2 separate regions of the Homo sapiens genome follow, and region 2 is linked to region 1. The links come from fine-mapping of genetic effects on gene expression. A gene starts in region 1. The other region holds a variant in brackets. All regions are shown on one strand. Distances are between the middles of the regions.

Region 1 (16,387 bases):
AGTACAATGTAATATGGTACTGAATGAAAAGATGAATCCATAGAGAGAGGATTATGGCACAGTGTCAGTCCCAGACTTATTCTTAAAGCATCATAAGGAGGAGAGCACACTTTAAAAGGTACCAAATAAGGGCCTCAGGTAACTGCTTTGAACAGAAGTTGTTTTACAAGCCTAGCATTTGAATGCCGCCACCACCAGCAACCCCCACAACTCTTTACAAGTTTATAGGCCTACTACTTCCCATGGGGAAGTCAAAGGGTAGTTCTATTGTTTTTCCTCCCTAAGCTGACCAAGCAATGCATTGTCTCCACCTTACTGGCATTACTTTTAATCCCCTTTTCTTGAAATAGCATGGAGTACTAGAGTTCTCATACATTGAAAACAACTGGCCAAAACCCAGAACACAAACCAGTCCAATTCCATGTTGTACAAATTTTTCCCAGGTCCTTTAAGAGATCTTTGCCCATTCAAATAGCATTTGGAGATTGAAAATGAATAAATCTGTTGATCGTGAAGGGAACATGAGGGATGAGTTGTTACACTTGCTTTGGTGACAACTGAGCCATTTGGGGACTTGGGGCACACCTTAAAAGAAGCAAATACAAAAGATTCCACCCAAAGAGAGTGCCTATCTTCTACCCTTTATCACTGTCCCTTGGAAATATTCTAATACCCTGTGGAAAGAAACGAACAGCATGAAATGTAGGAAGTAAAACTGCTCAAGTCTCTTCTCCCACTACTGATTAACTGATTGACTGACTGACTGAAACAGGGTTTCACTCTGTTGCCCAGGCTAGAGTGCAGTGGTGCAATCACAGCTCACTGCAGCCTCCTCCACCCCCAGGCTCAAACAATCCTCCACCTCAGCCTCCAGAGTAGCTGGGACTACAGGTGCACACCACCATGCCCTGCTAATTTTTGTATTTTTTATTGAGCGAGGGTTTCACCATGTTGCCCAGGCTGATTTCAAACACCTGAGCTCAAGCGATCCTCCCTCCTTAGCCTCCCAAAATGCTGGGATTACAGACATAAGCCACCGTGCCTGGCCCCTCACCTTATTTGCCTCTCCCCTCTTCCTAGACGAAATCTGCTCTGGTGCCCTATATGCCCTCTGACGAGGTACAGAAAAGGACAAAGTTGCCTATAAAGAGGTTTTTGCTTGTTCAGGAAAGTAAAATTAGATTTAAAACTTGCAGGAAAACCACCAGGAGCATAACTTCCCATATGATTCCACTTCAAAACATATACAAAAGTATGTATGAGAGTGACATAGCTGTAATATAGAAAGCATGCAGTAAAGGGGATAATGAATGAGGAGAAAGTGGGTATCTACAAAAAGACATCTGTCAAATTAACACATATATATCCCATCAATTATTTTATACCTTCTACAATTTCCCTATAGCTTCTTTAAAGAAGGGAACCTGGCTGGACAGGGTGGCTCATGCCTGTAATCCCAGCACTTTGGGAGGCTGAGGCAGGTGGATTGCTTGAGCCCAGGAGTTCGAGACCAGACTGGGCAACATGGCAAAACTACATTCTACAAAAAATACAAAAAATTAGCTGGGCATGGTGGTGCACGCTGTAGGCTCAGCTACTTGAGAGGCTTAGGTGGAAGGATCACTTGAGCCCAGGAGGTTGAGGCTGCAGTGAGCCATGATCATGCCACTGTACTTCAGCCTGGGCGACAGTGAGACCCTGTCCCAAAAACAAAAAGGGAACTTGGTTTTTTGTTTTGATTTTTATCCTCACAACCAAACTTTAAAAACTAGAGCATAACATCTAAGCTAGGAAGATTGGCTTATATATAATATGTATAGGTTTATATATTAAATGGCTTAGATATTATTAAATATATATAAAATTGGGCCAACTGTAATAATAAATTGGGATCAATACAAGGAGGATTATGACTAGGTTTAAGTGTTTTCTGAGGAGCATCCAACAATACTCCTAAAAGCGGAATGCAAGGAGTTATCAGTAACAACATTAACCACCCTAAGTATTGAGAATTTTCAGTTCTTTCAACTCAGATATTGAACAAAGATGGATGTGAATACACATACAGGCACACACATACACACACCACTTTTCAAGTCAGATCCACAAGTATGACTGAAGAAATCATTTCTAATTCTGTATAAGATGACGCTATTATAAGAGCTGGTTTATCAGGTTGACAAATTCTGTTTCCAGGAAGCTAACCAATTCCTGGCATTACTTAATGAACAAACTTGTTTAGTAGTTCCAGAGCTGAGAACACACTAGTGGAAAAGTTTGGCACTGTCATCTGAAATCTGGGACAACTGACACAAGTGAATCAGGGTTATAGAATCTAATTTTGTGTCAAAGTAAAATACATTCCTAGAGGTAGACAGGTTCTTCAACTGATACTTCAGAGGACATGTATAAAGACAGGAAGTAAATCAAGTGGCTCTTTTAGGCATTTCTTCCTGGATTGAGGTTTTGTTTTTGTTTTTTTTCCTTCTAAAAAGCAACATCACTATGCACACTTGGCTGCCACAAGCCAGTTATCTCTGTGGTATGGACTGAGACTAACTGAATTATCAGCACTCCTCCAATGTGGCATTCTTTAAAAACAAACAAAACTTTTAAAAACAAATAACAGGCTGGGCGCAGAGGCTCACGCCTGTAATTCTAGCACTTTGGGAGGCCAAGATGCGTGGATCACTTGAGGTCAGGAGTTCGAAACCAGCCTGGCCAACATGGTGAAACCCCGTCTCTACTAAAAATACAAAAAAATTAACTGCGCGTGGTGGTGTGCGCCTGTAATCCCAGCTACTTGGGAGGCTGAGGCAGGAGAATTGCCTGAACACAGGAGGCGGAGGTTGGTGTGAGCTGAGATAGCGCTACTGAACTCCAGCATGGCGACAGGGCGAGACTCCATCTCAAAAAAAAAAACAACAAATAACAACTTTCTTAGACTGAAGCAGTTAGGAATATGAACTTCAGAGTCAGAAAAATTTGGTAAGGAGGCCCTGAGCAAATCATTTATTCTCTCCAAACCTCAATTTCCTCATCTGTAAAATGGAGATAAAGCATCATTTCACAAAGCTGCTGTGGGAGTTAAAAGCAACAGAAAACCTACGAATTATTTCTTATGGTACCTAACACAGTAATGCTAAAAAAATGCTGGCTATTATTATCATCAATGAGAAAAGGTCAATGGAAAAAGACTGGAGGCCATTTAATCTACCCTAATACTTAATTTTATTACTGAACTTTTATAAATCATTAACAACAATTTACTGAATACTTATCTTGTATTACACATTAGAAAGTTTTAAAAGATATTTCAAGGTGTTCAAACTCTAGGGATAAAAAGATAAACAACACACAAATACAAAGTTGTATGAAAAAAAAGATAGAATTGGCAGGGCCCAGGGGCTCACGCCTGTAATCCCAGCACTTTGGGAGGCTAAGGCAGGTGGATCACCTGAGGTTAGGGGTTCGAGAACAGCCTGACCAACATGGAGAAACCCCGTCTCTACTAAAACTACAAAATTAGCTGGGCGTGGTGGCACATGCCTGTAATCCCATCTACACGGGAGGCTGAGGCAGGAGAACTGCTTCAAGCTGGGAGGCGGAGGTTGCGGTGAGCCAAGATGGTGCCATTGCACTCCAGCCTGGGCAACAAGAGCGAAACTCCGTCTCAAAAAAAAAAAAAAAGACAGAATTAGACAATATATAAACCAGAGTATATAAATACAAATGTATAAAAATAAATATTTTTAAATATGAGTAGCTTATATGGTTATATAAGAGGTTATATGGATGATTTTACATAATTGTTAACAGACTAAAGATTCTTTAAGAAAAGCAAGCTGGCTGGGCGTGGTGGCTCACACCTGTAATCTCAGCACTTTGGGAGGCCGAGGCAGGCAGATCACCTGAGGTCAGGAGTTCAAGACCAGCCTGGTCAACATGGTGAAACCTCATCACTACTAAAAATACAAAAATTAGCTGGGCGTGGTGGTGCACACCTGTAATCCCAACTACTGTGGAGGCTGAGGCATGGGAATAGCTTGAACCTGGGAGGCAGAGGTTGCAGTGAGCCAAGACTATGCCAACACATTCCAGCCTGGGCGACAGAGTAGAGACTCTGTCTCAGAAAAAAAAAAAAAGGATTGAAGAAAATAAGAGTGACAGGCCGGGCGCATTGGCTCACACCTGTAAGTCCAACATTCTGGGAAGCCAAGGCGGGCATATCACTTGATCCCAGGAGTTTGAGACCAGCTTGGGCAACATGGCAAAACCCCATCTCTACAAAAAATACAAAAAATTAGTCATGGCCAGGCACGATGGCTCATGCCTGTAATCCTAGCACTTTGGGAGGCCGAGGAGGGTGGATCAGCTGCAGTCAGGAGTTCAAGACTAGCCTGGCCAACATGGTGAAACCCTGTCTCTACTAAAAATACAAAATTAGCCAGGCATGGTGGCCGGTGCCTGTAATCCCAGCTACTCGGGAGGCTGAGGTAGGAGAATTGCTTGAACCCGGGAGGCAGAGGTTGCAGTGAACTGAGATCGTGCCACTGCACTCAAGCCTAGGTGACAGGGCAAAACTCCACCCCAAAAAAAAAAAAAAAGTATTTGTGAACTTTACACGTGAACAAGTTGAGGTAGCGTAATAGTGTGCTTATAACTTTGAAAAGATTTCCTGAGAGTGGGAGTGGTCTGACACACTTAGAAGCTACCAGGAAGAAGCATAAGGAGAAAGAGGTTAATTTTAGAGATTAAGAGGTTAAGAATCTAGGAAAAGGAGGAGTATTCATGGAACTAGAAAAGGATCTATCAAACAAGGATTAGAGTTCAGGCTTAAAAAGTAGAAGCTCTTAGGCAGTTTTAAGTAATTCCCCAGTGGCATGTAGTTTTTCTTCTCCTGGTACCCCAACCTGTGGTATGGAGGCTGCCAGGCAACATACTCCTCTCTTTAGCTCCAGCAGGAAGCCACTCTTCCAGACTGAGCTATTACTTGTATCTCAAAGCAGGGTCTTAAGGCACTTCCCATTTGTGAGTTCCCTTGGCTAACAACCCAGAAAAGTTGCCAGAAGCACCACATTCTCTAATAAACATTGTTATCCCGTATGGTGTCTGTTTACTATGCCACACACTCTCTCTCTTTTCCATAGATACAATCCCCAAAGTAATGTTTTAATCTTTGTTTTGTTTCATTTAACTAATGATGTTATTTCTTCATCTTGACAATGTTCTACCCAGCTCCACCAGATCGTCTGATCGCACTGCCCACTCAGGAGAGTCTGTGCTTCAGTGTCCCTGAGTCAGATTTTACTTTCTCTTCATGACATTCCACATACTTCCACTGCCTCCACCCTGTCCATGCCCAGGCAAACATCATTTTACAATGAGTATATGCAATAAGGCCAGACCCTCAATTCATAAGAAACTTTTATCCTTCAAGAAATGGTTGAACCTTTGCTAAATCTCAAAGTCAAATGCTGGCGTTTTTCTGTTCTAAGATATAATAGGCATTCAATATTAATTGATGGTTCAAATTCTTAAAACACATATTATAAAGTAGGCCATTTATTCCTCATAAGAATCAATATATATCACCACTACATTTTAACGTTTAGTGAAATTAACCCAAAGGACTGGAGACTATAGAATTACATGTGTCAATACCAAAACGACAGAATTGATCTCTCTCCTGTATATCTTTACACACTTTTGCACTTAATTGTTTACATGTTTCTGCTTCACCTTACCTAACTGTAACTTCTTGAGGACAGGATAACACAGGCACAGGGCTTAATACTATGCCTGGCACATAGGAGGCATTCAACAAATGGGCAAAGAATAAATTAACAGCTTCCATAGAACCAGAAAAACCTCATCTTATCCTCTGTGTATTCCCCTAAGTAATGCTCAGTTGGACAGATACTTACTTTTTACAGATGCCTAAAATTCAGCTATTTTTTGTTTGTTTTTTGTTTTAGAGACAGGGTCTCTCACTCTTGTTGCCTGGGCTGGAGTGCAGTGACACGATCATGGTTCACTGCAGCCTCAACCTCCCAGGCTCAGATGATCTTCCCACCTCGGTCTCCTGGGTAACTGGGACTATAGGGGCATGCCACTACGCCCAGCTAAGTTTGTGTGTTTTTAGTAGAGACAGGGTTTCACCATGTTGCCCAGGCTGCTCTCGAACTCCTGGGCTCAAGCGATCTACCAGTCTCAGCTTCCCAAAGTGCTGGGATTATAGGTGTAAGCCACCATGCCCAACCTAAAATTCAGTTTTAAAATCCAACTGTCATTTTTAAAAATATCAGAAATCTAGTAATGACATAGCCATGTTGATTTATTAAACTGTGATTCAAATTTCAATCAAAACAGCTGCTAACTATTCAGAGTCTACATAGGTGGTCAGATTCTAGCCAAACTGAATTGAGACTATTCTAACAGGGAGCTCCTAACAGCCTTGGAACCCTAGACAAGGTGTCTGTAAGTCACAATAATTCTGACTTCAAACCAGAACCAGATCATCTGTAATCCTGTACTCCATTCACTATAGTTTCCTGTAGCATTTCCAAGTTGTTACATATTTTTCAGTGATATATAAAGTTTCAGACTGCGTTTATAAAAAGACCACATAAACAATCTCAGGTATTATGAACAGCATTTGCCACTATGATTACTAAATCTGGAAATGAATTCTGGAGTGACCAAGAAAAAACAACCAGTCAATCCCAATTTTTTATAGCCACATAGTATCAAAGCAAAAAAAAAAATTTCCTATTATTTACAGAGATAAATAATTTCCACTAGAAATTCATTGGGGCTAACAGACAATATAAAATCTGACATGTTTTTATTAACCCAAGTTGTCAAACAGGCTTCAGTCTTGGGCTTAGAACAGCTCAGGAAAATGTGACTGTTACTTAACCAAAGAACCTGCAGGGCAGAGACTCAAGTTTTAGTCCTTTCTTCATGAGGCTGGAGTTTAACAAGTATAACTAAAATACTAAGAAGTCTATGTTTCTCTCTTATCAATCCTTTGAGTTTATTTAGAACTACAGCAACTAAAAGCAAACTAACTAAACTGGAAATTCAAATTTTCATCACCAAAATGGAAACTAGTATTTAAGAGAGAGACTGTGTGTGAATGTATCTGTGTATACATATCCTCAATGAGCTCTATACAAAGCAAATTGAACAGCCAGGTGTCAAGAAGAATTCAATATTAGCTCTAACAGTGTATCAAGGTCATCTACTTTCCCCTCACAAAAAAGATGGAGAGAATTGTATGGGGGAAAGTGAAGAAAGCTAGGGCAGTGGTTCTTAAACTAGCTTGCCTAATATACTGCAGCCACCAGGGAAGTTAATTCCTCTTGCATGTTCCTTTTACATGTGTCTTCACGTAAAACTGACAGGAGGACAACTGATGTGGGGACAAATGAGAAGATCCTGAGGTCCTGGCCCTTTTTTCTTTGGGGCTCTAGACCCAGCCTATATAGTTTCCTTCCTCCCCATCATTGGTCTCCATATACTCACACACTTATAAACTTTTTGAAAATGTCTTGAAATGTGAAAACAGGTTCATATCTATTTTCATGTTAGATAATGAGATGTAGTCAACACATGTGGGCACTCTAACTGGTGTAGCAGTCAACAAAGTAGGAAGTGGATGGTCTACATACCCTTAAGTATTTCACACTCTCCTTTGGGACTAACAGCTGCCCCCACAGGACAAGAAAAAAGACTTGTAAGAAAGACTATCACAATACAGGCTCATAAATCAATTCGAAGATTTATTCAAAATCTATAATACAAGATAAATGTTTGAATCCTGGGGTAGACAAGAATTCTGTGTCTCATCTATAAAAAAATTCAATAAACATTTCTTCAATTATATATTTAAATACCAGGCCTTACTGGGTTCCTTTTATGTCCACTCTCACAGCAGACCTTCCCTCAGAAGAGCACGCACTTCTGAAGGAAAGCATGAGAAGGAAACAGTAAGCCCAGCAAATGAACAAACCCTTCTCATACTGTATGAGGGACAGCATGAACTAGAACAAGGCAATTCATTCAAAGCCAGGGTGTAGAGATGGGTCACAAAACAATATCTGGCGAATTTGACATAGCGTACAGTTAACCTCCTACAAAAAGGACTTGACCTTGCTATAGGGCAAGGCAAACATTAAGGCTCCCTCTTCACATGGGGCACTTCACAGAAGCAACGGAACGTTTTGCAAACGATCCTCTCACTGAAGTTTACCCTTTTATTATTATTTAGGGCAATACCAAATATTTTGCAAAACTTGTGACAACAGTATCACAACACCTGTCTGGGCAGGAGAAGTAAAGAACGTTTAAAATGTTATTTCTTAGTCTAGTCCAGTAGTCATTTGCTAAACTACCAAAAAGGATATGGAATATAATTCAACTCAAATGCTACGTGCGGAAGACATTAAAAGCTTTCCTTAGATTACATCTTCACAGTAGAAATTGTAAATACTGACAAAAAGGAAGTGATTTCAGAGAAATTCTTTTGTGTAGCAAATGTTTCTTTCAAAAGTTACATAATTTCAGGGATACCGCAAGAAAAAAATAATGGATTAAACCCCTGCAACGGGATTTTTCAAAAAGTAGGATGTGAATTCTAACTGGCAGCATCCGACCAACTCCTGACCCCCAGCAATCTGCGTGCAGCACGCATTTGTCAACCGCGCGCTTGATCACAGCTCCAGTTTAATCGCCTCCTAGCCGAGCCCCGCACGCCCTCCCCCCTGCGCTGGGGCGCGCACAGGGCTGGAGAGCAAGCCCCGGGAACTCTCACAGGCCGGCCTGTGTGAGCAAAGGGAAGGAAATGACACAGGCAGGAAAAAAAAGCAAATCAAGGAAAAGACACAACAGCAGCTGGGCCTGCGGCAGCCTCCAGCCCGGGCCCCACACTGCGCTCTTGCTCCCCCGCCCTCGGGCTCGCGGTCCGGCTCGTTCGGACCAGGCTGCCCCGCGGAGCACGGGCCCTCGGTCCCGCCGCCGCTTCCCCGGGATGCGCCCGCCGCGCCGCCCAGAAGGAGGGCTGCCGAGCGGGCTCTGCCGGCCGGGCCGCCCCGCGGAGCCAGAACCCCCGCCCGGGCCGCGGCGCGCGAGCGGGGCGGGCGGCCGGCCGGCCGGCGGTCCGCAGCCCCGGGCCGGGCGGGCTGTCCATGCCTGTCAGGCGGTGGCCCAGGGTCCTCCTCCCTCAGCCTGGGGCGGGGCGTCGCGAAGCAGCGCGGGCACAGGCCGGGGCGGTGGCGACACTTACCCATGGTGGCGATGGCGGCGGCGGTGGCTAAGGTCCGTGAGTGTCACCTCCGCAGCCGGGGCTGCATGCCGGGGGCCCGGGCGGCGGGGACGGCAGCGGGCCTGGCTCCGCGCGGGGGGCGCGGGCTGCGCTCTGGGCCCCCGCCGCCTCCCCAGGCTCCGGCTCCGGCTCCGCCCGCGGCCGGGCGCTGTGGCATCGGCAGGGTGGCCCGCTACATCCCGGGCGCTCCTGGGCTCGGCCCAGCCCGGCCTCGGCGGCGCCGCTCGGCCCGCCCGCCCGCCAGTCCCTCAGACCCGCAGTCTCTCCGTCCGGCCACCGTTCTCCACCTCAGGAACGCTCCGAAAAACAAACCGCTGGTCGCGCAGCTCGCCCCCCTGTCTGTCACTCACGCCGGCCCCCACCAATCCCAGGCAGCCGCTGGGCCGTCGCACCACCCCCACCCACCTCACCAGCCAATAACAAGAAGGAAGTCGGCAGCCCCCGCCGTCCCCCTCCAACTCTCTCCCAACACCCTAACTCTCAGCGGCCAGCTAATCATCAGCACCACACGATGAACCAATCCCGCCTACTCTCACAGGATGCCAATGGGCGAAGCCAAGGCGGTTTCCGAGGGCTGTCTAGCGCCTGCCAATCATCGGGACAGCGCCCGGCTCCCTGCGCTGTTAGCCAATCACGTAGAGGCCTCTAAGCCCCCGCCTCTGCGCATCCCTCTCTGGTGCTGTCTCCCTCTCTTGGGAGAGATTGGGAGGTGTTGGTTGTTCCAATCACAGCTCCGGCGTGAGGCTCCGCCCACATTCCCACCTCCCGTCAGTCACCGAAGGCTCGGCGGGCGCGCGGGCTGGCGCAGTTCCCCGCCGGCTACTTTAGGGCTGGGGTGAGGAGTAGGCGGCTGCAGGGGGCCCTCAGGCCTTCCGCCCTCCGGGTTCTCGGAGGCCCCAGCGATCTGGGTGGTTCCAGAGGGTGGCGTCCTGCTCCTCCCCGTGCCCAGCACAGGGCGTGTAACGAGTGGGGAGGGTCTGGCCTGAGCACTTCCCGGCGCGCGGCCACCTCTGCGGCCCCATCCCCCGACTGGTCCTCCGGTCCCGACGCTGCTCTTGCCCCGGGCAGGGGCGGCCGGCCCAGCCCAGCTTTCCCTGTCTCACACCTCCAGGGCCACACCCTCTGGTCTAGGTACCTCAGACACCCGAGGCTGGGATAGTGCTGGCATGTGGGTCCCTGGAAATCTGAGTTCCGCCAGAGGTTCTTTCAGAAAATAACTTTTTTCTTATAAAAGCAACACGAGCTTTTTGTAGGAAAATTGAAAAATGCAGAAAACTATGAAAAAGAAAAGATCCCACCCCAGAGATAATCTATTTCCTACCTAGATAGGCGTTTGACAAAAATGGCTTTGTATTGTTTTGTAGTATGCTTACATTTTATTCTGTTTTCCCGTGCCACCAAATATCCTTCCAAAACAATTGTACTGATTGCATGATGTTTCAAAATTAAAGGCACCATAATTAATTTCCCCAACCTTTTCATTGTTCAACATTTTATACACTCAGATCTTCAGATTCCAAGTCCACCACAATTAATGTGGGCTCCTTTCTCCGGCCTCTGTTCCAGTGTAATATGTCAGGCTCCAGAATAATCTTCCTCAGATGTCATTGTCCACTGTCCACTAAGAACATTTAGTGGTGGCTTTGCCTTGAGTGTCAAATCCCTTAAGAATTACCTTGGGCTCTCCCCTATTTCTTTTCTTTTTCTTTTTTATTTTTCGAGATGGAGTCTCACACTGTCGTCCAGGCTGGAGTGCAGTGGCGCGATCTCGGCTCACTGCAACCTCCGTCTCCCGTGTTCAAGCAATTCTCCTGCTTCAGCCTCTCAAGTAGCTGGGATTAACAGGCGTGCGCCACCACGCCCGGCTAATTTTTGAATTTTTAGTAGAGACGGGGTTTCGCCATGTTGTCCAGGCTGGTCTCGAACTCCAGACCTCAGGTGATCCGCCAGCCTCGGCCTCCCAAAGTGCTGGGATTACAGGCGTGAGCCACTGCAAGCAGCCTCCCTTATTTCTTTACACTCATCTCCGTATATTTAATCAGCCCCCTTGTCCTGTTTTCTTTTTCTTCCAACAAGCTTAAGCCTGCCATATTCCCACTTGATTTGGTCTCTACCCAGTTTACTGGAGTTCCTTAACTATAATAATCTCTATTCTTGAAAGCGGGGATAAAGGGGAAAGAAAATTAGTATTTATCAATATAACAGGCACGTCATTGCATTTAATTTTTCCAATAACTCTAAGGTTATTATGCTAATACTGTGGGCATTTAAATGATGAAAGTGAAGCTTAGAGAGGTTAAGCACTGTGTCCAAGTAGTGGAGCCAGGATTCATACCAAGCCTGTGTGACTCCCAAAGGCCATGTTCTTGCACTAGGCCAGTGTTTCTCAACCTTTTTTTCATTATCCACCCCTGCCAGGAAAAAATTTTAATTTAAATTACTTAATTAAATTTAAATTCTCCCTAAGAAGAGAAATTAAATACTAAGGAATAAGATTTTGTCAGGTAGAGTAGAGCCTTTGTAAAAAAAATTTTCTGTAGAGTTGGGGGTGTCCCACCATTTTGCCCAAACTGGTCTCAAACTCCTGGGCTCAAGCAATCCTCCCACCTCAACTTCCCAAATTGCTGGAATTACAGGTGTGAGCTGCCATGCTCCTTTCTGTTTTCCCAATTGCTAAAGCACAGATGCTGCTCGACTTACCATGGGGCCATGTCCAGATAAACCATCAGATGAACAATCGTTAAGTAGAAAATGCATTTAATACACCTGACCTACTGAACATCATAGCTTAGCCAAGCCTATCTTAAGCGTGCTCGAACACTTAAGTTAGCCTACAGTTGGACAAAATTATCTAACACAAAGCCTATTTTATAAGAAAGTTTTGAATAGCTCATGTAATTTACCAAATACTGTACTGAAAATGAAAAACAGAATGGTTGTACTCAAAGCACAGTTTCTACTGAATTGTGTGTTGCTTTTGAACCATCATAACGCCAAAAATCATAAGCTGAGGCCGGGGCACAGTGGCTCACACCTGTAATCCCAGCACTTTGGGAGGCTGAGGCGGGTGGATCACTTGAGGTCAGGAGTTCGAGACCAGCCTGACCAACATGGTAAAACCCTATCTCTACTAAAAATAAAAAATTAGCTGGGCGTGGTAGCGCACACCTGTAATCCCAGCTACTTGGGAGGCTGAGGCAGGACAATTGCTTGAATCCGGGAGACAGAGGTTGCAGTGAGCCAAGATCATGCCATTGCACTCCAGCCTGGGCAACAAAAGCAAAACTCCATCTCAAAAAAAAAAAAAAAAAAAAAAGGTATAAGCCGAACCATAGTAAGTCAGAGACCCTCTGTACAAACCTAGGAGTGTTCCTTGATTATTCTCTCTCCCTGACACCCATATATCCAAACATGCAGCAAATCTTTTCAGCTCCCACTTCAAAATGTATCTGAATCAGGTCGGACGCAGTGGCTCACACCTGTAATCCCAGCGCTTTGGGAGGCCAGGGCAGGTGGATCACCTGAGGTCAGGAGTTCGAAACCAGCTTGGCCAATATGGTGAAACCCCATCTCTATTAAAAATATAAAAATTAGCCAGGTGTGGTGGCCTGTAATCCTAGCTACTTGGAGGCTGAGGCAGGAGAATCGCTTGAACCTAGAAGGCGGAGGTTGCAGTGAGCCGAGATTGTGCCACTGCACTCCAGCCTGAGCAATAGAGTGAAACCCTGTCTCCAAAAAAAATACAATAAAAATACACACACACACACACACACACACACACACACACACACACCTGAATCCAACCACTTCTCATCCCACCCCCCTTATCCAAGCCACCACCTACTCTCCTGAATGACTGCCCCAGACTCCTATCTGGCCTCCATTGTTTCCTCTGTGGCAGCCCAACAAATGATTCCCCAATAGCAACCAGAGTGATCCCTGTAAAATGTAATTCAGATCACGCCACCCTACCCCCTGCCCACTGTCAGCCCTCCAATGGCTTCCCTCCCATCACACTCAGAATAAAACCCCAATTCTTTGTCATGACCTGCCAAGCCCAATAGGAGCTGGCCCCTCCATCCTGTCCCTCCATCACTGTCCTCTAGCTACTCTGGCCTTCTTTCCATTCTTTGAAACTACCAAGCCAAGATGTTCTCATTTCTGCAGTTTATTCAAGTCTCTGCTCAAACGTCTGCTTTTAAGTCATTTCTTATCACCCCATCCAAAATGACCCCTCCCTTCCATCATTCTGTATTTGTATATTTTTTCCTTGTTTTTTTTTCTCAGTGGCTAAAATTATATATTTATTTGTTTGCTCTACTCCAACTACCACAAACATAAGGTATGCAGGAGCAGGAATTTTGTCCTGCTTACTGCTCTATCACCAGCACTTAGAATAGTGCCTCACACATGGAGAACCGCAGTACATCTACCTGAGTCTTTAGCTGAAAACAACCTTCTGATTTACCTTCTACCTTTCTTACAACTGCCTTCTTTGTGGCTTCATTTGCACTGTCGGTGTCTCAACCAGCCATCTCAAACATTCCCATACTGCAGTTACCATATGCGCTGAGGATTCCAGAATCTCAACTGTGTCTCTAGCTCAGGGATGTCTTTCTTCTGAACTCCACAGACATGGGTGTCCCACAGGAACCTCCAATTTTGGGTCCAAACTGAAACCATTTTCCCCCATAGTTCTGTATTTTCTCTGTCCCTCTCCAGTTTCCCAAGTTGGATACCTTCGAATGATCAGATAGCTCTTTCTCTCCATTTCTTTCCCCCACAGCCAGTCTTGAACAAGTCTCCAATCTGTCCATCCCTCTCCCATCCCATTTTACCACCCTAGCTCAAACCACCAAAATCTCTTACCTGCATGACTTAAGCGTAACAGCCTCTCAACATATATTCACATCACAGATTGATCTTTCTGAAATGGACACCTGATTCTGCCATACCCTCCCTAAAAAGTTTCCCATCACCCTTAGGATAAGTCATATATGTGAATGTAGTTAAGAAGGTCCTTCAGGACCCAACCCATACCTTCTTCTTCAGCCACACGTCCTTCTATTTCCACCTTAACTATAATAGTTAACCCCATTATTCAAATTCTATGCCCCAGCCACATAGAACCACCAGCAATTCCTCAAATGTGAATTTCTCTTGCTTCTATACCTCTGCGTGTGCTATGTTCTCTGCATGAAATCCTCTTCGCTTCTGCTTCCACCTCCATTCTTTTTTTTTTTTTTTTTTTTTTTTTTTGAGACGGAGTCTTGCTCTCTCGCCCAGGCTGGAGTGCAGTGACGCAAGCTCCGCCTGCCGGGTTCATGCCATTCTCCTGCCTCAGCCTCCCGAGTAGCTGGGACTACAGGTGCCCGCCACCACGCCTGGCTAATTTTTTGTATTTTTTTTTTAGTAGAGACGGGGTTTCACCGCGTTAGCCAGGATGGTCTCGATCTCCTGACCTCGTGATCTGCCGCCTCGGCCTCCCAAAGTGCTGGGATTACAGGCATGAGCCACCACGCCCAGCCCCCACCTCCATTCTTTCAGGGAAGAGCTAAGCCTATACAGCATTCTCCAGGAAGCCTTCTCAGACAGACAACTCCAAGTCCGGGTTAAGGCCCTCAGACATGCTGTCAGAGCACTGGGTACTTTCTTCATCAAAGCATGTGTCCTGCTAATAATTGTCTTTAACCAAGTATGTATAAAAAGGCCAGGTGTGGTGGCTCATATGTCTATAATCCTAACATTTTAGGAGGCTAATGAGGGAGGATTGCTTGACGCCAGGAGTTTGAGACCAGTCTGGGAAACATAGTTAGACCTCGTCTCTACAAAAAAAATTTAAAATTATCCAGGTATGGTGGCGTGTGCCTGTAGTCCTAGCTACTCAAGAAGCTGAGGTTGGAGAACTGCTTGAGCTCAGGAGGTAAGGCTACAGTGAGCTATGATCCTATCACTGCACTCCAGCCTAGATGACAGGGCCAGACCCTCAAACAAAACAAAACAAAGCAAAACAAAGCAAAACAAAACAACCAAATTAAGCATAAAGACAGAAGCTGCTTTCAAATCAGCATGCCTCTCATCTTTCATAGCACATTAAAAAACAAATATTTGTCAAATGAGTAAGTGAACCTCAAATGGAGATGTTAGTAACTGAATGTAATTTCCATAATGTTCCCTTTTAGGTATATGCAGTATTTTATCTTCTTTTTTTTTTTTTTTTTGAGACGGAGTCTCGCTCTGTCACCCAGGCTGGAGTGCAGTGGCGTGATCTCGGCTCACTGCAAGCTCTGCCTCCCGGGTTCACACCATTCTCCTGCCTCAGCCTCCCAAGTAGCTGGGACTACAGGCGCCTGCCACCATGCTTGGCTAACTTTTTGTATTTTTAGTAGAGACGGGATTTCACCGTGTTAGCAAGGATGGTCTCAATCTCCTGACCTCATGATCCGCTCACCTTGGCCGCCCAAAGTGCTGGGATTACAGGCATGAGCCACTGTACCCAGCCGAAAATTCTTTTTTGAGACAAGGTCTTGCTGTCCTCCAGACTGGAGTACAGTGGCACAGTCATAGCTTACCACAAGCTCAACCTCCCAGGTTCAAGGGATCCTCCTGTCTCAGTCTCCTCAGTAGCTGATACTACAGGCTCATGGCACCACACCTGACTTTTTATTTTCATTTTATTTTTGAAGACAGAGTCTTACTCCATCACCCAGGCTGGAGTGAAGTGGTGTAATCATAGCTCACTGAAGCCTTGACCTCCTGGGCTCAATCTTTCCACCCCAGCCTCTCAAGTAGCTGGGACTACAGGTGCACACCACCATGCCCTGCTAACTTTTGTATGTTTTGTAGAGACAGGGTTTTGCCATGTTGCCCAGGCTGGTCTTGAACTCTTTCGGCTCAAGCTATCTGCCCGCCTCAGCCTCTTGAAGTGCTGGGATTACAAGTGTGAGCCACCATGCCCGGCCCTAGCATCTTTTTTAAAACAGACAATCCAAATGCCCATTGATAGGAGACTGGTTAAATTATGACACGTTAATACCAAAAAAGTTATGTAGCTATTAA
Region 2 (16,387 bases), 26 kb before region 1:
CAAATGCAGAATGTTCACTGGCCACTGACAAGTGGGCTGTGCTGTGCTTATGCTCTCAATTTGGCAGTGGCTGAGGAACGAAAATGTCTGTCAAGGAGGCGAGACAAGTTCCTGAAGGAAAGCAAGCTTTGTCTTCAGCTGCCAGACCATGACAAGGGCTACTTACATGGTTTCTGTCCTGGGACAACAGCAATATCCTAAGGCTTTTCATGCTTGAGCTTCTATCTAAAATGTCAATTGCTTTATCAAGATCATCTTGGTTTTTCAGCAGGATGGAGAGCTGTGATACAAGACATAGAAAAGGAAAATAATATAAAACAGAAGTTTATCTCAATGTTTCACTTTGCAGAAATAAAATAAACAAAAAATAAAAATACATTTGGAGGAAAACAATCTCACTGGATACTATGGGGTCTTAAGAGATCTAGTTGAAACCATACAGATTTTTTTCTCTAAATGTACAATCCAAAAATTTGTAGTACCTTTACATAGTTGTGCAACCATCATCATAATCCAATTTTAAAACATTTCCAGAACTCCAACAGGATCTCTTGTGCCCATTTATAGTCACTCCTCCTTCCCACCTCCAGCCCCAGGCAACCACTACTCTACTTTCTATCTCTATTGATTTGCCTTTTCTGGACATTTCATTCCATTTAGACTCATACAATTCATACATATTCAATTCAATTCATAAAGATTCAATCTTTTTCATCTAGCTTCTTTCACTTAATGTTTTTTAGTTCATCCATGCTGTAGCATACCTCAGTACCCAGTTGTGAGATACTTTCTGAGAAGAGCTGCCTCTCCAAAAACACTAATTTACTTCAAAATATCAAGTTGCAAACAGTTACAGCCCCCATATTCTTTTCCAAATTAAGTAGGATCATGTCCCACTCTACTGCCAATTGTGCTGACATTAATAGAACAAGCAGAAAAGGAAGAGAAGGGGTGGAGGGATGGTCAGAGGATGAAAATTGTTATACAAATAAAAACACAAATTTAGACTGCATAGCACGGTTTAATTATCTTTCTGTTTAAGGGCAAAGTCAGTGACTAGAACCTGAAAACTACCTCCTCCATTCTCACGGAGCTTTTCCCCCTTTGCTTGGCACTTCTCTCTCCTGTCGCCATATGAAGGATGTGTTTGCTTTCCCTTCCGTCATGATTGTAAGTTTCCTGAGGCCTCCCCAGCCATGCTGAACTGTGAGTCAATTAAACCTCTTTCCTTTATAAATTACCCAGTCTTGGGCAGTTTTTTACAGCAGCGTGAGAACAGACTAATACACTCATACGTTCCAGTGAAATATTAAATAGAAGGTCCCTGAGGGTACAAATAAGTCTCACTCACTGCAAAAAGCAGAGCATGTTATGAATACTTGGTATTAAGAGATTCATAAGATGCAAACGTATGCCTTGCTTAGGACCTAGCAAATGTCAGATCTTATTCTTATTCTTCTTATTTTTTGGAGACAGAGTCTTACTCTGTCGCCCAGGCTGGAGTGCAGTGGCACAATCACAACTTGCTGCAATGTCCACCTCCTGGGTTCAAGTGATTCTCCTGCCTTAGCCTCCAGAGTAGCCGGGATTACAGGTGCACACCACCACTCCCCACTAATTTTTTTTTTTTTTTAGTAGAGACTGGGTTTTGCCATATTGGTCAGGTTGGTCTTGAACTCCTGACCTCAAGTAATCTGCCCACCTCAGCCTACCAAACTGGTGGGATTACAGGAGTGAGCCACCACGCCTGGTCAGATTTTATACACGTATGGTAAACACAAAATCAAGCAAAAGTCCAATTAACTTACACAGTTCCCAATTTATAATACAAGATTTTTTTTTTTGAGACAGCATCTCCCTCTGTTGCCCAGGCTGGAGTGCAGTGGCACAATCTCGGCTCACAGCAACCTCCGCCTCCTGGGCTAAAGTGATCCTCCTGCCTCAGCCTCTCAAGTAGCTGGGATTACAGGCATGAGGCACCACACCCGACTAATTTTTGTACTTTTTGTAGAGATGGGGTTTCACCATGTTGTCCAGGCTGGTCTTGAACTCCTGAGCTCAAGAGATCTGCCTGCCTCAGCCTCCCAAAGTGCTGGCATTACAGGCATGAACCATCGCGCCTCGCCAAAAACAGTACATATTTAAAATAAAATCTCAAAACTACTTATGGAATGGGAGAATGTTCTGCAAATCATATTATATTGCAAAAGAATTTCTTCCTGTGTGACATTCAAAGTGGGAATAAATAAGAATGGTTGGGAAGGGAGTTAAATAAAAAAAACCAAGTAGGCTGGGGATAGTGGCTCACACCTGTAATCCTAGGAGGCTGTGGCGGGAGGCTCACTTGAGGCCAGGAGTTTAAGACCAGCCTGGGCAAAATAGTGAGACCCCCATCTCTACAAAAATTTATTTTTAATTAGCTCAGTGTGGTGGCATGTGCTTATTGTCCCAGTTACTGGGGAAACTGAGGTGGGGGGATCACTTGAACCCAGGATGTCAAGGCTGCAGTGAGCCATGATTGCACACTGCACTCTGGCCTGCGCAACAAAGTGAAACCCTGTCTCAAACCAAAAACAAAAACAAAACTCACAGTGACATATCACTTTACACCTACTAGGATGGCTATTAAAAGAAGAAAATAACAAATGTTGGTAAGGATGGTGGAGAAACTGCAGCCCTCACTGATATGGTTTGGCTGTGTCCCCATCCAAATCCCATATTGATTTGTAGTTCCAATAATCCCCATGTGTTGTGGCAGGGACCCAGTGGGAGGTAACTGAATCACGGGGGTGGTTATCCCATGCTGCTGTTCTCCTGATAGTGAGTGAGTTCTCACGAGATCTGATGGTTTTATAGGAGGCTTTTTCTCATTTGCTTGGCCCTTCTCTCTCCTGTCGCCATGTGAAGGATGTGTTTGCTTTCCCTTCCATCATGATTGTTAAGTTTGCTAGGCCTCCCCAGCCATGCTGAACTGTGAGTCAATTAAACCTCTTTCCTTTATTTGTTTATTTAAAAATAAAATAAAATAATTTTTTTTAATCGTTTTTTGAGACAGAGTCTCAACTCTGTCTCAAATGAGCTGCAATCTCGGCTCATTGCAACCTCCGCCTCTCGGGTTCAAGTAATTCTTCTGCCTCAGGCTCCTGAGTAGCTGGGACTACAGGTGTGCACCACCATGCCCAGCTAATTTTTATATCAGCAGCAGAGACGGCGTTTCACCATGTTGGCCAGGCTGGTCTCGAACTCCTGACCTCGTGATCTGCCCGCCTCAGCCTCCCAAAGTGCTGGGATTAACAGGCGTGAGTCACTGCACCTAGCCACCTATTTCTTTTATAAATTACCCAGTCTCGGGCAGTTTTTTACAGCAGAGTGAGAATAGACTAATACACTCATAAGTTGCTAGTGGGACTGTAAAATTGTGCAACCATTATAGAAAATCTGGGCAGTTCCTCAAAAAGTTAGAGTTATCTTATGACCCAGCAATTCCACGCCTAGGTATATACCTTACAGAATTGAAAACATATGTTCATTTAAACACTTGTAAACAAATGCTCATAGCAGCACTATTTAATCACCAAAAAATGAAAACAACCCAAATGTCTATCAATAGATGAACAGATACACAAAATGTGGTATATCCATAAATGGAATATTTATTATTCAGCCATAAAATAGAATGACATACTGACAACATGCACAGATGACCGTTGAAAACATACGCTTAGTCAAAGAAGCCAGACAAAAAAGGTCACGTACTGTATGATTGCACTACACGAAATGTTCAGAATAGGTAAATCCAAAGAGACAGAAAGATAAGTGCTTACCAAGAGCTGAGAAGAGGAGAGAAAGGGGAATAACTGCTAATAGGTACAGGTTTCTCTTTGGAGTGATAAAAATGTTCTGGAGGCCAAGTGCGGTGGCTCATGCCTGTAATCCCAGCACTTTGGGAGGCTGAGGCAGGCAGATCGCTTGAGCTCAGGAATTTGAGACCAGCCTGGGCAACATGGTGAAACCCTGCCTCCATAAAAAATACAAAAAAATTAGCTGGGTGTGATGGTGTGTGCCTGTAGTCCCAGCTACTTGGGTGGCTGAGGTGGGGGAATCGCTTGAGCGCAGGAGGTCAAGGCTGCAGTGAGCCGTGTTTGCACCACTGCACTCCAGCATGGGCGACAGAGCAAGACTCTGTCTCAGAAAAAAAAAGAAAATGTTCTGGAATTAGATAGCGGTGTTGGTTGCACAACTCTATCAGCATACTAAAAACCACTGAATGGTATACTTTTAGATGATAAATTTTTTAATCTCAATAAAACTATAATTACAAAGAGATAAATAAATAAAATCTCAGTAGATTTTTCATTTGGGATTCTTAGATCTTGACAGTGCAGGGTTTAAAGGGCAAACAAAAGAACGGAATTGAGGGATTTTAAATTAATCAAATGTAAGTTAGTCAACTCCTGATCATTAACATTAGTAGAGTATGTTAAGACATGTATGAACTAAAATAATAACAATGATTTATATTTGGCTTTAGAATAAAGAAACATCAGGAATTCTTAATGGAAATATTAACTGAAAAAGAAAAGAGTACTAAATGATTCAGAAAAGTCTTTACTAAAAGAAAAATTTTAACTCCTCATCAAATAAAATAAAACTACACAGTGATGATCTGGTTCTCAAAGGGTCATGATGTTGCCCAGCTTTCTTGTCTTGCACCCCTAACTCAATTTCCTCGAGGTACACATTCTTTACTCAGCATAAATACACTGCAAAGCACCAGCCTAAGCTGATTGTAGTCTGTAATATTCTTCTTGGAGCTGGGAAAGCAGCCCAGAAACTGACATTCAAAAGAATTCCTTCCTGGGTGATATTCAAAGTAGAAGTAAATAAGGACCGTTGGGGTGGAGTGAGGAGGAGGAGGAGTTAAAGAACTTATTGGAGCAGGTGCTAACATTTGAAACAAATAAGCTCCAATCAGAAGAAACTCTAAGAGAAGAATCCTGCATTTATGACTGTAATAGATGACCTACTCACTGGTTTTTCACACCTCCCTAGCCCCTGCTAAACCCTCTGCTTCTTGTTAAGGCTGTGCTGGGGGGAAAAAAATAAGATACTCCTACAAAATGTAAAGGAGACAGTATAAGCCCTAGCCCTGGTACCATACCTGATTCCACCATGGAATATTAGAGCTATCTGCACTGAATGAGTAGGGGGAATGGAGATGGCTGAGATGGCTGAGTAATCTCCCATGTAGTAAAAAACAGAGATCCCACAGTTGTTGGAATTAAGAAAAGGGGGTCTAGAAAATGAAAACCTGCAGATGATATTAGAGGAACAAACTTTAAAGGCTCTGGTAAACAGAGAGAAAAAAGGTAGGCATCTGCCCCTCTTGTCCCTGCCCCATCCATCTGCCTTCTCACCTCATTGTTCATGTAATGTAGATCAAGAGGTTGTCCAAATACTGTTGTCACCTTGTGCTCCACATCTTCATATTTCACAGGCCGGCTGAACGCTATAATTCTGAAAAGAAACAGAAAGAAAGGTTGGTTAATTGTATACTTAAAACGTAGGGTTTAAAAAGCAATGGTCTGAGTATATTCTTCCTTTCTTCTCAACATAGGATTCTGTTTTCTTTCACTCAATTTGCCTTTTCCCGATTGTTTCCTTTTTTCCTCTTCTCTACCGTTACCTTTCACCCTCTGAGCATCTATCAGGTTTGACAACAGTACCCACAACTATTGCTCAATCCCAACCATTCATCTACCACTTCAGCTTAGACTCTTCTGCCAATGACAGAAGAGGCCACTAGATTTAAAAACTATGTTCCAACGATGAGAACACACAGACACATGGAGGGGGAACAATACACACTGGGGCTGTTGGGACTTGGGGAAGAGAGAGTATCAGGAAGAATAGCTAATGCATACTGGGCTTAATATATAGGTGATGGATTAATCTGTGCAGCAAACCACCATGGCACATGTTTAACTATGTAACAAACCTGCACATCCTACACATGTACCCCAGAACTTAAATAAAAGTTGAAAGAAAAAAATTATTTAGGAAATAAGGTAGAAAACGTACAGACTGGAGTAGCAGTCCTGAAAACATGGCCTCAACTCCTAAGGGACTCAACTCTAGGACTTGAAAGGTCTTTTCCATCGTTCATCTTTGAGATGCCATAAGAATCTCCATACTGATTTTCCTCAGAATTAAGATTTTCTACTACAGAGTCACAGGAATTCCCCCTTGAGTTAGTGATATGCCTGATCAGTTTTCTTAACCAGTGACATATCTGTGCATGTAACTAGTATTGACATTGAAGATTTTCTGGAGAGACTCATTAGGTCAGTTCAAAGAACAATTTCTACAAATATAAGGTAGAGTAAGGAGTCATCCAAAGAGGTGTAAAATCTGATTTGTTATTAAATACTTCAGCAAAATTTAAAAGTGGGAATTGATAAAACAAGACTGGGAAAATGTTAGTAATGTTGAAGCTGGGTGACAGGTCCATGGGAGTTCAGTTTAATACTCTGTCTACTTTTGTGTGTGCTTGAAATTTCCATAATAAAAAGTTGTGGGGTTTTTTTGTTTGTTTGTTTCAAAACAGAGTCTCGTTCTGTCACCTAGGCTGGAGTGCAGTGGCAATGATAACGGCTCACTGCAGCTTCAACCTCTGGGGCTCACGCAATCCTCCTGCCTCAGCTTCCCAAGTAGCTGGGACTACTGGCATGCACCGACTAATTTTTTATTTTTTGTAGGGATGGGCCTCAATAAGTTGCCCAGGCTGATCTCAAACCTCTGAACTCTGGCAATCCTCCCACGTCGGCCTTCCAAAGTGCTGGTATTATAGGTGTAAGCCACCATGCTTGGCCAATAAAAAGTTTGAATGAATGTATTAGGTTGAACTATATGAGACTACTGATGGCCGACCATTTTTGATATATAAAAGTGGCAATTTTATATGGGTTCAACCCAATACTCTAGAACAGAAATGACTAAAAATAATCAGAGATAACTGAAGAAAAGAATATAAGAAAGAAACTCATACACACACATACTCTCAAATTTATATAAGAAAATACAGAATTAAAAAAAAATCTTGGGGGCCAAGCACTTTGGGAGGCCAAGGTAGGAGGCTCGCTTGAGGCTAGGAGCTCAAGATCAGCCTGGGCAAGATAGTGAGCCCTCCTGCCTACTAAACATTTTTTTAAAAAATTAGCCAGGTGTGATAGTACATGCTTATAGTCTAAGCTACTTGGGAGGCTGAGGTGGGAGGATCACTTGAGCCCAGGAGATCAGGGCTGTAGTGAGCTGTGATCATGCCACTATACTCCAGCCTAGGCAACAGAATGAGACCCTGTCTAAAAAAAAAAAAAACTCTCTCTCTCTCTCTCTCTCTCTCTCTCTCTCTCTCTATAAGAGACAGAGAGAGAGAAGGTCTTCCTAACCATAACATAAAATACAGAAGACAAGCCAGGCAAGATGGCTCATGCCTGTAATCCCAGCGCTTTGGGAGGCTGCGGTGGGTGGATCACCTGAGGTCCGGAGTTCAAGACTAGCCTGGCCAACATGGGAAAACCCCATCTCTACTAAAAATTTAAAAATTACCTGGGTGTGGTGGCACATGCCCTGCAATCCCAGCTACTTGGGAGGCTGAAGCAGGAGAATCACTTGAACCCAGGAGGCAGAGGTTGCAGTGAGCTGAGATCACACCACTGCACTCCAGCCTGGGCAACAGAGCAAGAGACTCTGTCTCAAAAAAATAAATAAATAAACTTCTGATTGCAAAATAAGCCATCAACAAAGTTAAACAAATATCAAACTTTGAGAAAATACTTGTAAAAAATCAATAAAAGACAATCTAATAGAAAAGGCAAAAGATTAGACAATTCACAGAAGAATTGTAAGTGGCTAATAAAACACATGAAAAGATGCCCAATGTGACTGGAGAAATGCCTATTAAAACAACCTTCATCTCTTAGTACACCTAAGCAGGATAAAATCAGACTAGTGTGTGTTGGAGCAAGCAGTATTCAGCCATGGGCCTGCGCAGTTCTTGTCCTCTTCCATGCTGAGAGGAAGAAGTGTGTGGTTCTTTCTCATCTTCCCTGCTCCCCCAGAGTGGGAAGTGGTGTAACCAGAGGAAGAAGCAATAAGCCACAAGAGAGAGGGATCTAAACCATTGGGTTTTAATAAAATCTGACCAGATAATTTCTTTAATGTTCTTCTGTAACAGGTTGGCTCAAATCAGTGAGAAGCATAAAAGCCTTCATCATCTAGAACTGCATCTGCACTATTCAATATGGCAGCCATTAGCCACATATGACTATTTAAATTTAAATTGATTAAACTGAAAATTGGTTCCTGAACAGGTACAGTGGCTCACACCTATAATCCCAGAACTCTGGAAGGCCAAGGCAGGTGGATAGCTTGAGTCCAGGAGTTTGAAACCAGCCTGGGCAAAATGGCAAACCCTGTCTCTACAAAAATTACCTGGCTATGGCAGTGTGCCTGTTGTCCCAGGCACCTGGGAGGTTGAGGCAGGAGGACTGCTTGAGCCTGGGAGGTGGAGGCTCCACGATCACACCACTGTACTCCAGCCTGAGCAACAGAGATCCTGTCTACTTTTTTTTTTTTTTTTTGAGATGGAGTCTCGCTCTGTCGCCTAGGCTGAAGTGGCACGATCTCGGCTCACTGCAAGCTCCACCTCCCAGGTTCATGCCATTCTCCTGCCTCAGCCTCCCGAGTAGCTGGGACTACAGGTGTGCACCACCACACCCAGCTAATTTTTATATTTTTAGTAGAGACAGGGTTTCACCATGTTGGCCAGGCTGGTCTGGAACTCCTGACCTCAGGTAATCTTCCTGCCTCAGCCTCCCAAAGTGCTGGGATTACAGGCGTGAGCCTCTGTACCTGGCCCAGAGACCCTGTCTTAAAAGAAAAAGGTTCCTCTGTCTCACCAACCACATTTCAAGTGCTCATTAGCCACATGTACAGCAGCCATATGTGTACTGGACAGCACAGATATAGAACATTTCCATTATAGCAGAAAGTTCTACAGGGCAACATTGATAGACTATTAATATAAACCATAATCTATCCTTCACGCAAAGCCTAACATCTCAAGAAGGTAATTCCTTCCTGTTTTTTTCCTTTGTCCATCACCACCTTTCATTTTTGGAAATTATACTGCTAACCAAATTAGTTTCATCTCCACTAGGAAACCCATTGAGACTGTAATTCTTTTTTCTGTGTGTGTGTGATGGAGTCTCGCTCTGTCCCCCAGGCTGGAGTGCAGTGGCTCGAACTCGGCTCACTGCAACTTCCACCTCCCAGGTTCAAGCGATTCTCCTGCCTTAGCCTCCCGAGTAGCTGGGACTACAGACGCCGGCCACCACGCC[C/T]GGCTAATTTTTGTATTTTTAGTAGAGACGGGGTTTCACCATATTGGTCTCGAACTCCTGACCTTTTTATCTGCCCGCCTCAGCCTCCCAAAGTGCTGGGATTACAGGCGTGAGCCACCACACCCGGCCCAGACTGTAATTCTTATATTTTTTTCTTCCAAATCAACTGTCCCAAGCAGTGATACTGTTAGGTGCTATCTAGATGGATTCTCTAGATAGAGGTGTTTCTGAAGCCTTTTGAGAGGATAGCTTTCTATTAATGCCTAATAGCAAATCATACCCCTCCTTCTTCAAGGCCTCAGCAACAGTGCAAAAGGGTCCAGCCTTTCTGGATAAAATACCAGAAGTCCACTCAGATGTCCCTAGCACACTATTGAAAAAGGATCATGATCAGAGATAAATTCTTCTGCATTTGGCCTAGCAATGAGCCATTCAAAACCCACAAAAGCAGCTTGAAAGTCTGGTCAAGATCAGAGGCCAGGACTTCCAGATTGGGTAAGATCTAAGCTGCTGCCATCCTATTGAATAACAGGCATTTTTAGGCCAGTGCTTCAAAGAGAGGTCTAACACCCATGCAACCACCCCCATCAGTGTGTCATTAACATTTCCAAAGGGAAGGAGATCTTAATCTACAATCCTTCTCCCCAGCCCTCCTGGGGCCAAAAGGGAGGACAGTCAGGGGTCTGGTCCCCATATTCTCAAAGTAAAGGGAAAGTCAGCCCACCAGAATGAATACCTGTCATGGATAAGTGGGAAAAGTCATGACTTCTTTCCTCTTTCCTGTGAATTCTAATTCTATAAGGGCCTACATTTAGATAAATACTACCCATATTCCAGGTAAAAAGTTTAAAATGCCCATAATGACATTCTCTACAAAATCCTGACGTGAAATACACGAAACTAGAGCTGTGTGGCACAGAGTACTAACTCTGTTGGCTTCCCTGCACCAACTTTATAAAGTCCTCAATTCCACATATAGTACACAAACACTGAAATGCCATGGCTCCTGAAAACAGCTCCGTAAAAAGAGAATGCACCATTTTCAAAACCTTGATAAGCAACGTTCTGCTGCTCAGGGCTTCAGAAGGCCATTCCTGCCTGACCACCTTAAATATTTGTGGTTTCAATCTGGCAGCTTCTCTGAAACCAAACACATACACTTTCTCAGTGTAAGCCTGCTCACTGTAACTGCATACCACTTTGGGAACAGGGAATTCAGGAGAGCCTAACTGCGTAATTGGGCTCCAACACAATTGTGCTTTTGATTGAAAACTCTGCTGCTCTGAGTTTGGCCATCCCTTTAAAACTCAGGTTGGAAAATGTGAAAAGTAGCAACAGTGAAGTGACAATTTAACTTCTCTGCTAATGGCAGGACACAGGAAGAGCAGCTGGGGACAGAGCTCAGACCTTCCTCCCTCCAGGCCTGGAACTCACATAGGAGCAGAAGGACCCTGGCTCTGCAGACCACACTTTCCACAATGCTTCCACCGGGTTGCCTCTGACAACCTTGTAGGCTTGTGAATGTGTATTTTAAAGGGAGAATAGTAGCCACAGGTCTCCTCTGGAGCCAGCTGCAAAGTAGGCTGAAAGGTACCAACTGTAGAGAACTACCAGAATCAAGAATGTTTAGAGGTACTAAGGTCCTGTGGTGAGACTCTTAAAGTAGGAAGACCTCATACTAATGGGTATGCTCTTCACCTGTCCAAATGCTCAAAGCAAAGGAAAGCTGAGGGTGGCAGGGGGTAGTATATCAATGGGAAAGAAAGGCAAAGAGTGGAAAAAACACCGAAAGGCACATTTATGTGTACATGTGCCGCACATGCACAAACATGCAAGGTCCCAAATATCCCATGTCCAGAGTTCTGTATGCTTTCTGAATGTTTTCCTTAAATAACTTCAGAAATTAAGTACAGTCACATTTTTTCTACTGAGAACTTCTACCTTGGCTTCCCACAAAAAATAACAATAATGAAAATACTGACAATGGAGAAAAGGACAGAAGAGTTTTGTAACACTACTTTCACTTCCCTAATGAGGTAAGATTCAGAACACAGACCGAAAAACTCCCTCTTTCTATGTCCTCAAAGGAGCTAAAGTCTTTTACAACTGATGGACTTGGTGCAGCTTCCCATGACCTAGAGACATCATGAAGAAACTTCTAATTCACCAACCTGACCCTTGATGTGGACAAAGCCAGGGCTGCTCTACTGGGAATAGTAATGGCACCATATCACAGGAGAATCCTGCCCTCCCTCTAATGCCCACAGGTGACACAGTGTCAGTGTGTCTGAAAGCCATGACTCTGAGTAGGGCCAGAGTCCTCACTTCCTAATAAAATGTCAGACCTCACAGCAGCAGAATAGAGCAGAACAGTAAAACATCAGCAGTTGAAATGGCTTCCAATGCTAAGATAGGAACAAGGTTCAATTAGTAGGCCAAGACAAGGGTGAAACTTTCCTCCCTTTATGCCCAATCCACCCTATTACCCAGCCAGTGGCCCCACAGGGATCAGGACAGGGGAATGACTTCCATGAACTCAATGCTATCTGAGAACTTTGGCATACATGAACACAGCTACTCATCAGAAGGCAGACTTACCGCCTCTCCCCGTTGTGCTCGAACTTGATTCTGACGTCACTCTGCCAAAAAGAATGATAGACAGGTTAGAGAATTCTCTGGAATGTGTCACTCCTGCCATTGCCAAGTAAGCCTTGGGCAGTTCGTTAGCAACATTAGGCATACATCCCTGATGGCTCCTGGTCCAGCTTCTCTTCCCAGATGGGCATGGGCATTCCTTTCCAATGAGTTAAAACTTCCAGTTCTAACATCAGGGACAACAAAGCTCTTAGGGTAAGATCCCTAGGTGGCTGCCCAGCTCAGTTGCTATGCTGTGACATGCTGTTTCTAGCTTCATACACACCCTATTTCTACAATTGGCTCTGGAAGTTTCTCCCACTCTATCACCTCCTGACCAGGATACATTTCCTTGTTGGCTGATGTGACTGAAGACAAAAAAGAAATTTTGCTGCTGATGCTTTCTAGCTATATGACCACAGGCAAGTTACTTATCCTCTGTGAGTCTTAGTTTTTCCATCTGTAGAGTAAGCCTAAACATACCTTGCAGAGTTCTTACAACAACTAAATGTAAGTAAAATACCTGACACATAATAGACATGCAATATTTGGTTTTTGCTGCTGCTGCCACTGGTACCACTATCATTGATTTCCCAAAACCCTCCCAAAGCTACCCCACTGGGGGTAAAGTAGGATCTTATACACTGTTCCCAGCCTTTTCCAAAATGACCATCATGAGTAGCCTGTAAACTGCAGGAGAGCAGAGATCAGGTCTATCATGTTTCTTTTTTTTTTTGAGACGGAGTGTCACTCTGTCACCCAGGTTGGAGTGCAGTAGCACAATATCGGCTCACCGCAACCTCCGTCTCCCGGGTTCAAACGATTCTCTTGCCTCGGCCTCCCGAGGTCTATCATGTTTCTATATCCCCAGTGCCAGGCAAAGGAAATGGCATATAATATTTGTGCTTAATAATATTTGTTAAGTGGTTGAATGAATTGAAGAACAGAAGTATAAATATGAGAAATAAGAGGAAGTAGAAATGTTAAAATGACAAAGAACAAATTAAAGAGGAAGAGATATTGCAAAAGGGCAAACAAACAACTTGAGGGAGTTTAAAAAATGACAGGGAAAGGAGAGAGATATTACAGAAGAACAGGTGTAGAGGAAAAGAAAGGTAAGATGGGCAGGAAACCAGCAAATAATAGAGATAAAGGAGAGAATGAAGTCATAGTCGATGAAGAAAAATTATTTTGAAGAAGACAAATTAATAGGCTGTGGCTTGGAAGAAAGAGGACTTAAGAGTATTTGAAGATGAGGAACACATAGCAAACAGACAACAGAAAAGGGAGTGAGTTTGAAAGGAAGGGTAGATGCCTAAAGGACTCCCTTTTCCCAAGGTATTAAGGGACTAGACTTCTCTTCCAGTTCAATGAATTACAAGAGTGGTTCTAATTTACACTGTAAAAATTATTAAAGACCCCAAAGAGCTTTTGCTTATGTGGATTATATCTATTGGTATTTACCATATTCAAAATTAAAACTGAGAAAATTTACTTTATTCATTTAAAATGGCAATTAAAGGCCAGAGGCACAGTGGCTCACAACTGTAATCCCAGCCCCTTGGGAGGCCGAGGCGGGCAGATCACTGGAGGTCAGGAGTTTGAGACCAGCCTGGCCAACATGGTGAAACCTCATCTCTACTTAAAATACAAAAAGTGTGCCGTGAGTAATGGCGCACACCTGTAATCCCAGCTACTCGGGAGGCTGAGGCAGGAGAATCGCTTGAACCTAGGAGGCAGAGGTTGCAGTGAGCTGAGACAATGCTGTTGCACTCCAGTCTGGGTGACAGAGTGAGACCCTGTCTCAAAAAATATACAGCCCTGATATAGCCTTCTTATCCTGTAAGATAACACATGGACCACTTTATCCATTAATAATAATGATAATAGCTAACGTTTATTGAGCATTTACCACAAACCAAGCATTGTTCTAAGCATGTTTACATATATTAATTAAACTGATCCTCAAAACAAGTACCATTATTATCCCTATTTTACAGAAAATAACTGAGTTACAATAAGATTAAGTAAGTTCCCCCAAGGTCAGGTCATATCGCTTGTAAAGGAAGAGGTAGGATTTGAACCCTGGAAGCCTGACTCTTAACTACCATGCTATGCTACAACTTAAGTGTCACACAGGCACTGAGAGCAGTTTTTCACTATCTTCTTTTTCTCGTTCCCCTGAAATTCTAAACAGTTACCATGACAAGAGTCCTCTAAAGCAGAGTTGCCATGCTCTGATGTGTGGTCTCCAGCTTCCCACACTATTTCCTCAACTGGATCTGGAGTATCCCAAGTGCTCTATGAAGTTTGTAGTCCTGTCTGCCCCTGTGGGAGGGTTATACATCCTTTTACCTGTTCCTGCCTACAGCCCAGCATACCTTGCTGTAGCTCTATTATTTTAATTAATAAATTTTATTTTTAGAAGAGTTTTACATTTACAGAAAAACTGAGCATACAGAGCAGAGTTCTGATATATCCTTCTCCCCTTTGTACAGTTTCCCCTATTATTATTATTGTTATTATTGAGACAGGGTCTTACTCCTGCCACCCAAGCTGGAGTGCAGTGGTACGATCACGGCTCACTGCAGCCTTGACTTCCCGGGCACAGGTGATTGATTCTCCTACCTCAGCCTCCCATGTAGCTGGGACTACAAACAGGCACATGTCGCCACACTGGGCTAATTTGTAACTTTTTGTAGAGATGGGGTCTTGCCATGTTGCCCAGCTAGTCTCAAACTCCTGGGCTCAAGCAATCTGTCCACCTCAGCCTCCCAAAGTGCTGGGATTACAGGCATGAGCCACCACACCCAGCCAGTTTCCCCTATTATTAATATCTTACATTAGTATGGTATATTTCTTTTTGTTACAATTAATTAATCAATATTGATATATCAACTAAAGTCCATAGTTTACTCACATATTTCCTCAGGTTTTTGTTTTTGTTTAATTTTTTTTTTTTTTCATTTTTAGAAGTTTTAGGCCAGGTGTGGTAGCTCACGCTTCTAACCCCAACACTTTGGGAAGCCGAGGTTTGAGGATTGCTTGAGCCCAGGAGTTTGAGATCAGTCTGGGCGACATGGCAAAACGCCATCTCTACAAAAAATACAAAAATTAGCTGGTTGTGGTGGCACACGCCTGTAGTCTTAGCTACTTGGAAAGCTGAGGCAAGAGGATTGCTTGAGCCCGGGGGGCTTGAGGTTGCAGTGAGCCATGATCACGCCACTGGACTCCAGCCTGGGTGATAGAACAAGGATTCTGTCTCAAAAATATATTGAAACAAAACAAAACAAAACAAAAAAACGAGGTTAAAAACACACACACACATAACAGCTTTCATTCTTAAACTGGGACAACATTTTATTTATTTTTTTATTTTTTGAGACAGAGTCTCACTCTGTTGCCCAGGCTGGAGTGCAGTGGCGCGATCTCGGCTCACTGCAGCCTCTGTCTCCTGGGTTCAAGTGATTCTCCTGCCTCAGCCTCCCAAGTAGCTGGGATTACAGGCATGCACCACCATGCCTGAATGATTTTTGTATTTTTAGTAGAGACAAGGTTTCACCCCTGGCCAGGTTGGTCTTGAACTCTTGACCTCAAGTGATCCACCCGCCTTGGCCTCCCAAAGTGCTTGGACTACAGGTGTGAGCCACTGCCCCAGCCCTGGGACAACATTATATTTAGATATACTAATGAAGGAATCTCCTCAGTGCCTTTATGGAAATGAAGGAACTAAATTTATTTCATAACGAGCCATAACCTAAGCACTGCTCTACATGAATTTATTCAGAAAGGGAATTAAACTTTTGTTCCAAACCACAAATCACTGCTACTTAAGACTAACCAAGCCTGTGACTAAAAAGCAGTGTAAACAAAGATGCTTCTTTGATGCCATGACAGCCTTACAAGCTTCCATGAACCACATGATATGCCCAAATCTTCTGAGTCCCTAAATCTGAATTTCACCCATCAGGTTGACCATAATAAGCCATAGATAAGGGAAGTTCAGATAAAGATAATTTGATTCAATGCCTTCCGGCCAGCCATTCTTCTTGTCCTCTCTGAGGCATTTCACACTGGTGGGTGGCCAACTCTATTTCCAACTTCTGTGACTCTATCCCAGCACAGGGAACCTGCTACCACTCTGACCACTTCTGCTTCTTTGCTGGTTCCTCTTGTTCATGCCCTCTCCCACCCCTCCCCAAACACATGACCATTCCTCAACCTTGCGACTTCTGACTTCTGGCTTTCTCCTGCTCTGCATACAACTTCTCAGTGGGCCTCTAAATAGATGATTCCTCAATCTCTATATGTAGCCCCAATCACTGAAGCAAGGCTCATCTGCTTGCCACGTA

Alleles and levels. Positions count from the first base shown, and alleles are read on the strand shown. Sizes are in standard deviations (SD) of each study's normalised expression.
As copies of T replace C in region 2, the expression in spleen of the gene that starts at base 9,636 in region 1 goes up (moderate effect, 0.49 SD a copy in GTEx).

The links. PIP is the estimated chance that this variant, and not a neighbour inherited with it, causes the effect.
Region 2: its variant is the best candidate, but not a certain one, in a credible set for the expression of MAP3K3 in spleen (GTEx, PIP 0.77).

Annotation. Positions count from the first base shown.
Region 1 is chr17:63,615,666-63,632,052 of GRCh38, reverse strand. It overlaps MAP3K3 (mitogen-activated protein kinase kinase kinase 3), which reads right to left and starts at 9,636. Exons shown (of 16, transcript NM_002401.5): 1 at 9,290-9,636. The coding sequence starts at 9,293. RefSeq lists silencers at 8,886-8,935, 9,176-9,235, 9,326-9,715, 10,326-10,395.
Region 2 is chr17:63,641,687-63,658,073 of GRCh38, reverse strand. It overlaps MAP3K3 (mitogen-activated protein kinase kinase kinase 3), which reads right to left. Exons shown (of 16, transcript NM_002401.5): 3 at 12,000-12,040; 4 at 5,418-5,517; 5 at 167-280. Among named protein-coding and RNA genes, the nearest start is that of MAP3K3, 27 kb to the right of the region's middle. RefSeq lists enhancers at 2,660-2,709, 10,982-11,031. The variant C/T (reference allele first, on the strand shown) is at 9,402.